Homo sapiens: one gene and its partner. The protein of the gene in region 2 interacts with the protein of the main gene of each other region in a pairwise test. Each region holds a gene or a part of one and is shown on either strand. Other genes may lie near its edges.

Region 1 (4,868 bases), on a different chromosome or scaffold from region 2:
GAGAAACTTCGCCTACTTCTTGACTGTGCCTAGGGCTGACTTTGGCCATGTCACTCAAAATCACCTTATGAGCCACAAGAGGCAGACCCCTGATTTACACAGTCCATCCAGCAAGTATGACCAGCACATACCTGACAAAATAAAAATGAGCCACAGTACACAAATGAAAAAAGTTTTGACTATACAGTTATAAAATCAGGAGAGGCCTTAAGAAAATCATCAACACACAAGGGCTTTGCAGATTTACCCCCAATCAGAGCATGAACAGAACTTGCACCGGCCCTGTGAACTCTACGTGTTTATCATCAGGTTTTTACTCTATGTCTCCTGTAACACAATTTAACCCACTGTGAATTGGAAACCATGTAGCGGCAAATTGTTATAATGGGGTTCTAATGAATATTAGAGATTAGCAGCTATAAGTCTAGGAACAGATAAAGTTACTGAGTAAAATGCTTAGTTTGTACCTGAAGTATATCCAGGACCGCGTCTGCCGTGCCCCCTATTTCTGTAAGGTCTACTACCTCGACCCATTCCTTGACCATCATCAGTCACATAGCTTTTTTCCTTATCTGTACGATTTGGTGGTGGTCTAGAACTAGCTCCAATCTGTCGCAACTGCTCATCAATTTGTAATCTCTCCAAACGCAACTGGTCTACTTCCTATTTAAAATATACAAGATAACAGTAAAAATAATTTGACATTTTACTTAATAAAACCTTTCTCCTTTTCATCAGATAAAAATATACTGGAATATTTCAATTTCAGTTCTAAATTTACAGTAAACACTGTTACACAGAATTATCAGGAAATTGAATGATCTCCTTAAAAAGAAAATTACTACAGATAACAGATTATTGATGTCAAGAATTAGAGATATAACAAAAACACTCAGCAGTAAAATTATACTGAATAAAATTTAAAGTTGTCTAATTTGGCACTATTATCCAATTATTCTACTGCTAAGGCACAGATATGCTATTTTGGGGACTTCTTCATGATAGGATATTAAATAAAACATGCTAAAATGTATGAATATAGATAAATGACATTCAAGGTATAACCAGCTAACCTTAAAAATCACACATTGTAAATAATCTTGATTAAAATAGATTTGCCAGTTAATATCTTAATTTACAAAGCATTGAGTTTGGGCCATCTTTTGTTTTAAAAGAACATATACTATGGTTAAGGAACAATGATTTTTTCATCAACTGAAAATGCTGACTATTCCTCATGAGGGGAAAACAAAACTATTTAATAGCTGACCAGACAGCTAGGTCTTACATCATGCCTTGAAAACTTCCTAAAGACTACAACTCTGCTACAACAAGTACGAGAAACAGTATACATTTAGTTGATAGAAATATACACCTGGGGTCCAATGACAGACCCTTACAAAAAGCACTTCCAGTATGTTGGGTTCTGTTAAAACCAGATGAAACCTCATTTCTAACCACTGTCCTTCCAATCCACTCATAAACATCTCATTTACTGGCTACGGGGAATCAGATTCATAACTATAGTAGTAGTAGGCGTCTCAGTGAAGCAGAGGTTATCATAGAGACTGTCTACATGAACAGTCATTGGAGAAGCTCCTGTAAAGCTAAGTTTCTAAAATCTTGGTTGTGGCAGCTTCTGGAAAAGAAAGGTCAGGTAAGGATTTGGTCCGTTTCATCTGTGCTCTGCCATCATTAGCAATTTACATAGTTACACCAGAATCTGTTTTACATAGAATTTGAGCAAAGGAGAGACTGCAGCTGAGTGAGTGACTTCCTCCAAAGGTATAGTAATAGCTCATGGAATAGGAATATCTTGCAAAACAGAAGAGTAGTCCAGGTTATCCCACTGGGGCAAAGCAGTCACCTTTTGGTGAGAGATGCCAGGCCCAAACGAGGGAAGTTCTGGTGATGGAAAGAATGGCAACAGGGCAGCTGCTGATAACCAAAGAAGATATTCTTGAGAATAAATCAAAGGATCTAAGAAAGAACATTAGTCAAAAGAACAAGGGATTTGATACAATGCAATCCTAACTCTCCAGGCCTTCATGATGATTTAAGCTAATTACGAGAGAGACACACACACAGAGAGATTACACATAAACATACTTAAAAAAAAATCAAAGAGGTATCCTACCCATGTAAACCTTGCTGGATGAAACCTTTCCACTTTTAATTAACTGGCCACCATAAGAATGAATGGCATGCCCAGTATTACACTTTTTCTTCCTTTCATTCTTATTTACACACAAGCAGAAATCATGTACTTTTTATTTCTTTCAAGAAATCAGCAAAAAAATTCTTAATGCCATAAATAGAGTTGAAATGCTTTTTAAAAACATTTAATACCAGCTACATTATAATTTTGATATGTATGGATACAAATAAAACATTATGAAAATGAAGTAGATCAGTTTCCATTTCATTAAAGTATAGAACATTTTGGCCAAAAGGAATTTCAAGAAGCATCTAGTGTAGGGAAGTGACTTGCCTAAAGTCACACAGCTAGTTCATTTGCTGAAGTCTTATAAGTAAATTGCTGCATTGCCCATCCAGTGCTTGCTCCACTACACCTTGTAGCCTCCTCGTTCCTATCTTCCAGTTTGAAATTTTAAGGAGGCATAACCGCATCACACTAACTAAACTGAACATTTATGAGAAGACACAAATAGTTTGTATTTTGAATAACAGTAAAGAGAAAAATAGGGTAAACATTTAAACAAAGAACTTCATGAAATGCTTAGATTTCCTTGATAAATGACATAAAAGGAACAATAAAGGCAAGAGTTATAGACACAGATTTTTGTCTGGAAAAAACCAAAATGCTAGAAAGGATCAAATGGATTAACAGGCTATGTACAGGATTGCCTAAACTGAGTGTAAGGGTTTAAGAGAAGAATAAAGGGAAGTATAAAATTTTATTGAAAACTGGTATATTGGTACTTAAATTTATAAAGACTTCCATTTTTAAAAAAATTATAAGCCAAACAACGTATTTTCTCTATTACCTTTGACAAGTCATACAGTGTTTTGCACAGGCTAGAATGAGTCCTAACTGCTGAAAGATCTACTATAAAGTTTGTATATTTTAGTACAAAAGGATTAGAAGTTAAAGTTCTTTCTGTTCTCACCTTTAAATAGTTCAGGTGATAATCCAAAAGAACAGTGGCATTAGCGATGCTGTCCTTTGTTCCCACAAAAACAAATGGTACCATACCCTGAAAAAGAAATTGCAACAATGATCCTATAAAAGTAATGATAGATTAATCTGAAAAATGCAAATAACGACTAATTCCCTAGCACAGGATCTGGTGAACAGCAGGTATACAAATGTTTGCTGTAAATATAAATCAATATATGAAAACAAAAGTAGTTGATATACTACTTTACACATCTACTGTGAATACGAATAGATCAATAGCAACCTTTTAAACGTATCAGATTATTATAAAGACTAGTATTCAGTATCAGCAAAATCACAAAATGTATAATTCAAAATTATACAAGCTTTACCATGAGATGTATAAACAAAATGAGTAGTATAAGATGCTCTAATTCATTTATGAAAGGCTTTATCCTGATCAAAATTTTTTCTTTTTTTTTTTTCTTTTTTGTTTTTTTTTTTTTTTTTTTGAGACGGAGTCTCGCTCTGTCGCCCAGGCTGGAGTGCAGTGGCGGGATCTCGGCTCACTGCAAGCTCCACCTCCCGGGTTCACGCCATTCTCCTGCCTCAGCCTCCCAAGTAGCTGGGACTACAGGCACCCGCCACTACGCCCGGCTAATGTTTTGTTTTTTTAGTAGAGACAGGGTTTCACTGTTTTAGCTGGGATGGTCTCGATCTCCTGACCTCGTGATCCGCCCGCCTCCGCCTCTTTTTTTTTTTTTTTTTTTGAGACAGGGTCTTTTTATTCTGTTATCCAGGCTGGAGTGCAGTGGCATGATAATGGCTCGCTGTAGCCTCGACCTCCCCAGGCCCTAGGTGTTCCTCCCACCTCAGCCTCCTGGATAGCTGGGACAACACGTGCATGCCATCATACCCAGCTAAATTTTTGTACTTTCTGTAGAGACGGGGTTTCGCCACATTGCCCAGGCTGGTCTCGAATTCCTGGGCTCAGGCGATCTGCCTGCCTTGGCCTCCCAAAGTGTCGGGACTACAGGCATGAGCCATCGCGCCTGGCCGATCAAATTCTTAAAAAAAAAATCAAAATGAAATACCAAGGGTACAAAAGTAAAAAGTAAATCATTTCTGCTAACCAAGTAAATAGAGTACACACAAAATACAAACAAAAACATCAGGATAAAAATGCACTGAATAATCTGTGAGACAAAAAAATAGGTACATTGACAAGCATTAAGTTTTATCAAGCCCATACACATTTCAATAATGTACTCTGAAAATTTTAAAAGGCTGAATCACAAGGAAAGTTTGAACTTCTCTCTATGGACACTACTTAACATAAGAACAGATTTTTAAAAGGCATATGCTAAATGTCTGTACTCCTAGCCCATATATATATATATTAAGAGGGAAAAAAAAAACAACTACTTCTTGTCACAAGTTATAGGGAAACCTAGAAACAATTGTGCAAATTAATAACTGGCAATTCATTTCTGCATGTTGGGTTTTTCTCCAACAAGCTTTATTTGTTACAAAAGCCTTTAACTGTATTATTTCCCAAAATACCATGTGATGGAATGAATGCTACACCCTTCCCTCTGGGTCAAATATCACCAAAATAGCTTTAAAATCCTATGTAACAGATTTAGTTAGATTGACTTCGGAGCAAATTATTTACGAATATCTTTTCTTGCAACATGTCTAAACTGCTGGAGTACCCCAAGGGCCACTCTAATTTAAGCACTTCACG
Region 2 (4,868 bases):
TTAGAGAAATGAAGAGACATGAAAGATAAAGTATGATGACTTAACATAACATACATCTATACAGAGTTCCAAAAAAGAGAGAGAATGGGATAATATTCTAAGAGATAATGATCATTTTTTCAGAACCACTGCAAGATCCAATCCAGATTCAAGAAACAACAAATTCCAAGCTGGATACATAAAAAGAAATCTACAATCAGCACATCACACAGTTCAACTACAGAATATCAAAGACAAAAAGGATCTTTAAAACAACCAAAGAAAAAAGATTATCTTCAAATTGGAAACCATTAAGACTGATAGATGAGTTTTGAAAATCAACAATGGAAGCCAGAAAATATTGTCAGTAAGAATATAATTAGGGGCTGGGTGTGGTGGCTCATGCCTGTAATCCCAGCACTTTGGGAGGCCAAGGCAGGCGGATCACTTCAGGCCAGGAGTTTGAGACCAGACTGGCCAACATGGCGAAACCCCAGCTCCACTAAATACAAAAATTAGCCGGGCGCAATGGCATGTACCATAGTCCCAGCTACTCAGGAAGCTGAGGCATGAGAATCACTTGAACCCAGGAGGCGGAGGTTGCAATGAGCCAAGATAGTGCCACTGCACTCCAGCCTGGATGACAGGGAAAGACTTTGTCTCAAAAACAAACAAACAAAAAGCATATAATTAAACAACCTAGAATTCTAAACCCAGGGAAAATATCTTTTAAAAAGAGTAAACGGAAATCGTTTTCCACCCAGCAAAAACACATTTTTAAAAAAAAAGTCTAAAGAATGTATTTAAGCACAGAGCATGGTGGCTCACACCTGTAATCCCAGCATTTTAGGAGGCTAAGGCAAGAGGATCATTTGAGCCCAGGAGTTTGAGACCAGCCTAGACAACATACTGAGACCCCGTCTCTACAGAAATTTTTAAAACATAGCCGGGCATGGTAGTACATGCCTGTGGTCCCAGCAACTCAGAAGGCTGAGGTGGGAGGATCACCTGAGCCCAGGAGGTCAAGGCTGCACTGAGTCATGATCATACTCCTGCACTCTAGCCTGGGCAACACAGTGAGATCTTATCTAAAACACACACACACAGAGAATATATTTATACATATATAATTCCAGACATGATACAAAGAGTGAGCCAAGAAAGTGCTAAATATATAGGCAAAGCTAAGCAAATATCATTCTTTGTATTTCGGGGAAAGAGTAAGGTTCCTGATTAACTTTAAACACTGGTAGGAATATAAGACCAGAAATTTAGTATCCAACTTCCAAACTAGCAAATGAAAAAAAATTGTGTGAAGAAAAATAAGAGCCTAAAAAGAAAAAAAAGAAGAAGAAATAAAACCAAATGTCAATAATCATAAAAAATGTGAGTAGACTATACGTTCAAGCTAAAGGACAAAGATTGTCATACTGAATTATAAATTAAAACCAGCTCTATACTATGTACAAGTAATATCCGAGACATGAGGATACAGAAAGACTGAAAGAGTGGGAAATTATATAAAGAGAAAGATGATGTGGCTATTAATATAAGACAAAATAGTCTTTTAGGCAAAAACATCAGAGATAAAGTCACTACATAATGACTCAATTACCCACCTTCAAAGTATTTAAAGCAAAAAGTAAAAATCACAAATCCATCATCATACTGGCAAATTTTAACAAACTCCTCTTAGTAACTGATCAAGCATATCAAAAAATAAAAAAAGTGAACAACACAAAAAGCTCAAGTAATCTATAAATTCATTTCAAACATACACAGAACTCTTACAAAAAACTGATTACATACTGGACAATAAAGGAAGTCTCCAAGTATTTCAAAAGATTGGTTATCATAGCAATCTTATTTTCTGACAGTATGATTGACTTAGATATCAATAAAAAATACTGCTAGACAACCTACATGTTTAGAAGAAACATACTTCCAAGCAGCCTACAAGTCAATGAAAAATAAAAATTAGAAAATATTCAGAATGAATGAAAAAAGTTAAATAACCCAACTTGAGACAGAACTAAAGTCAAACTTTATGGCCTAAAATGATCTTAATAGGAGAGAGGCTGAAAACTGAGTTTAAAAACTTATGTACTTATTTCAGGGTAAATTAAAGAAGAGAGCAGGGAAAAAAAAGGTACAACTTATAAATACTACAGATAAAAAAGTAAAGGATTCTTAAGAACAATTTTTATAACTTCTGTAACTTACAGGAAATAGACACATTACAAAAAATATAGAGTTTACATAAACTGTCTTAACAGAAATAGAAAACACGAAGTTAGATTAAAACTTTCTCAGAAAAAAACTCCACCCAGGCCCAGACACTTTTATCAGCAAGATCTACCAAGTATCTCAGAATGTTTCCAATCTTAAACTATTACAGAGAATAAAGATGAAAACAGCCCCAACTAATTTGAGTATTATAACCTTACACTAAAAACTGTCAAGGAAAAAGAGGGGGGGGAAATTACAGGCTCTGAACACATAAAAAATTCTAAACAAAACACTAGCAAACCTTCATTTGTAATAGCCGAAAGTTGGAAAAACCCAAACATAATTGGGAAATGGATGAACTACAGTATGATGGGATACACAGAACTACTGACATATACAATTACATGAATGAATTTCAAACACATTATGCTCAATGAAAGAAGCTATAATGAAAGGCAATATACTGTATGATTCCATTAGTGTGACATTCTGGAAAAGGCAAAACTATAGGGACAGATCAGTGGTTACCAGGTGAACTAAGGGCTGAGGGACGGGATAACTACAAAGACACTTGGAGAAACTGTTTGAGGTTGATGAAAGAATTCTGTATCTTAATGGTAGCTGGTGATGGTTACCCACTGTCTACATTTGTCAAAACCTGAAGAACTACACACTTATTCATTTATAATGTTAAAAGATAAATTTTACTGTATATAAATTATATCTTAATAAAGAGGAAAAGAAAAAACAAGCCAAATCCATGATTTAAAAATGGTATATCATAAACTGTATTAAACGCAAGCATACAAGGGTGGTTTAATACTAGAAATAAATTATATAATTCATTACACTAACAAATTAAAATAAATTAGATGCTCATCCCAATAATGAAGAAAACAGATTTTGTAAACTTCAACATCCATTCACGCTGAAAATTTCAAACCAGGAATAGGAGTAAAACCCTCCTTTACCCGATAAGGGATACCTACAAAAAAATTAACATCATATTTAATGGTAAATGTCAAAACCATTTTCTTTAAATTAGGAAACAAAGGTGTCCACTATTATCACTTATGTATAACATTCTATTATAGAGGCCAGAATGTCAGGCAAAAAATAAATAAATAAATAAAGACTAAAAGTAAACAAAATTAGTAATTATTCAATGATATGAATGTCTACATAGAAAGTACAAAAGAATTTACAGATAATTACAATCATTTCAATGAAGTACACTGCCAAAACAAGTAGTTACTACTTTAGAGGAAGAAGAGTCATTACTAACTGAAATATTTAATTCCATTACCTTGACTAGAATCAGTAGTGTCGGATTTCAGGGAAAGTGGTTTTGCTCCATCTTTAACTTTTTTCAAACGGTTCTTATCTCCTGGTAAAGTCAATTTTTGCCTGAGTGGTTTTAATTCAAATGCCTGAAAAGTTTTGACTTGTGTTTTCTCCTCAGGAGCTACTTCTTTACTTGAATCCTTTGTAATACTGACATTATCAGTGCTAGTTTGGTCCTCGAAGTTCAATGTTTTAGGATCTTCCTGCACATTCTCTTCTTTGCTACTCAATGCTAGTTTTTCATCCTTATTGATGCATTCTAGTTCCAACTGTATTTGTTTATACTTTAAAAGCAAATCTTCAAAAGTTTCTTCCACACAGTTTTCATTTTTTGATGAATAATTTTGTTTTCTTGATGGAGACCTTCCAAAACTTTTGGCTGAACAGCATATTAAGGAAACCAGTTTCCAAAAATTTTCCACAGTTAAATTTAACAAAAAAACTTAGATTATAGATGAATTTTCTCCCTTTTTAATTTTTCAAGAAAAATGAATCGATATTTTTAAATTACTAAATTCCATTTAATGTATGTGCAGCTAATGCCCACTTTCATTACGTGCCCATATTTGAATTTAGTAAGTACCATATAAACAGTCCACTTACAAAATCACTAGTGTCATAATTACCAGTAGTATCCACAGACAGTCCACCTAGTTAGGTTATAGCATCATTCCTTCTGTGCCAGGAAAGTCCATAATTAGCTGTATGTTAGAGATTATTTTCTGAAGGAAGAGGGGAGAAACTGAATGCTTTGTCACAGATGCGGATAGTTTACACTTCAGGGGGCCAGGCGCGGTGGCTCACGCCTGTAATCCCAGCACTTTGGGAGGCCGAGGCAGGAGGATCACTTGAGGTCAGGAGTTTGAGACCAGCCTGGCCAACACAGTGAAACCCCATCTCTACTAAAAATTAAAAAATTAGCCAGGCGTGGTGGTGCAGGCCTGTAGTCCCAGGTACTTGAGACGCTGAGGCAAGAGAATTGCTTGAACTCAGGAGGCGGAGGTTGCAGGGAGCCAAGATCACACCACTGCACTCCAGCCTGGGCAACAGAGGGAGACCTCATCTCAAAAAAAAGAAAAAAAAAAACACTTTAAAATAGTACTCAAAATATATCTATTTTTCTCCTACAGACAAGGGAAAATGTTATGAAAATAATCTGAAGCAACTGTTCTTACTTTCTTCTCTAACACAGTGATACACAAAAGGTAACTTTTTCCTTAGAAACAGCTACAAAATTTCAAACTACAATTTTTATTCTAAACAATTCATACACGAGAATTGTTATACCTCATTTTTCCAGGCCAGATATTAGCAAG

The links. The genes of interacting proteins can lie anywhere in the genome.
Region 1: the proteins of ZFC3H1 (region 2) and FMR1 interact in a two-hybrid assay, tested with the Homo sapiens proteins (one large-scale study listed by IntAct).

What each region holds. Positions count from the first base shown.
Region 1 is NC_000023.11:147,938,926-147,943,793, reverse strand, and holds part of FMR1 (fragile X messenger ribonucleoprotein 1), read right to left. Parts: intron 3,219-4,868; coding exon 3,132-3,218; intron 664-3,131; coding exon 468-663; intron 1-467.
Region 2 is NC_000012.12:71,653,371-71,658,238, forward strand, and holds part of ZFC3H1 (zinc finger C3H1 domain-containing protein), read right to left. Parts: intron 3,932-4,868; coding exon 3,515-3,931; intron 1-3,514. UniProt on the Homo sapiens protein: Subunit of the trimeric poly(A) tail exosome targeting (PAXT) complex, a complex that directs a subset of long and polyadenylated poly(A) RNAs for exosomal degradation. The RNA exosome is fundamental for the degradation of RNA in eukaryotic nuclei.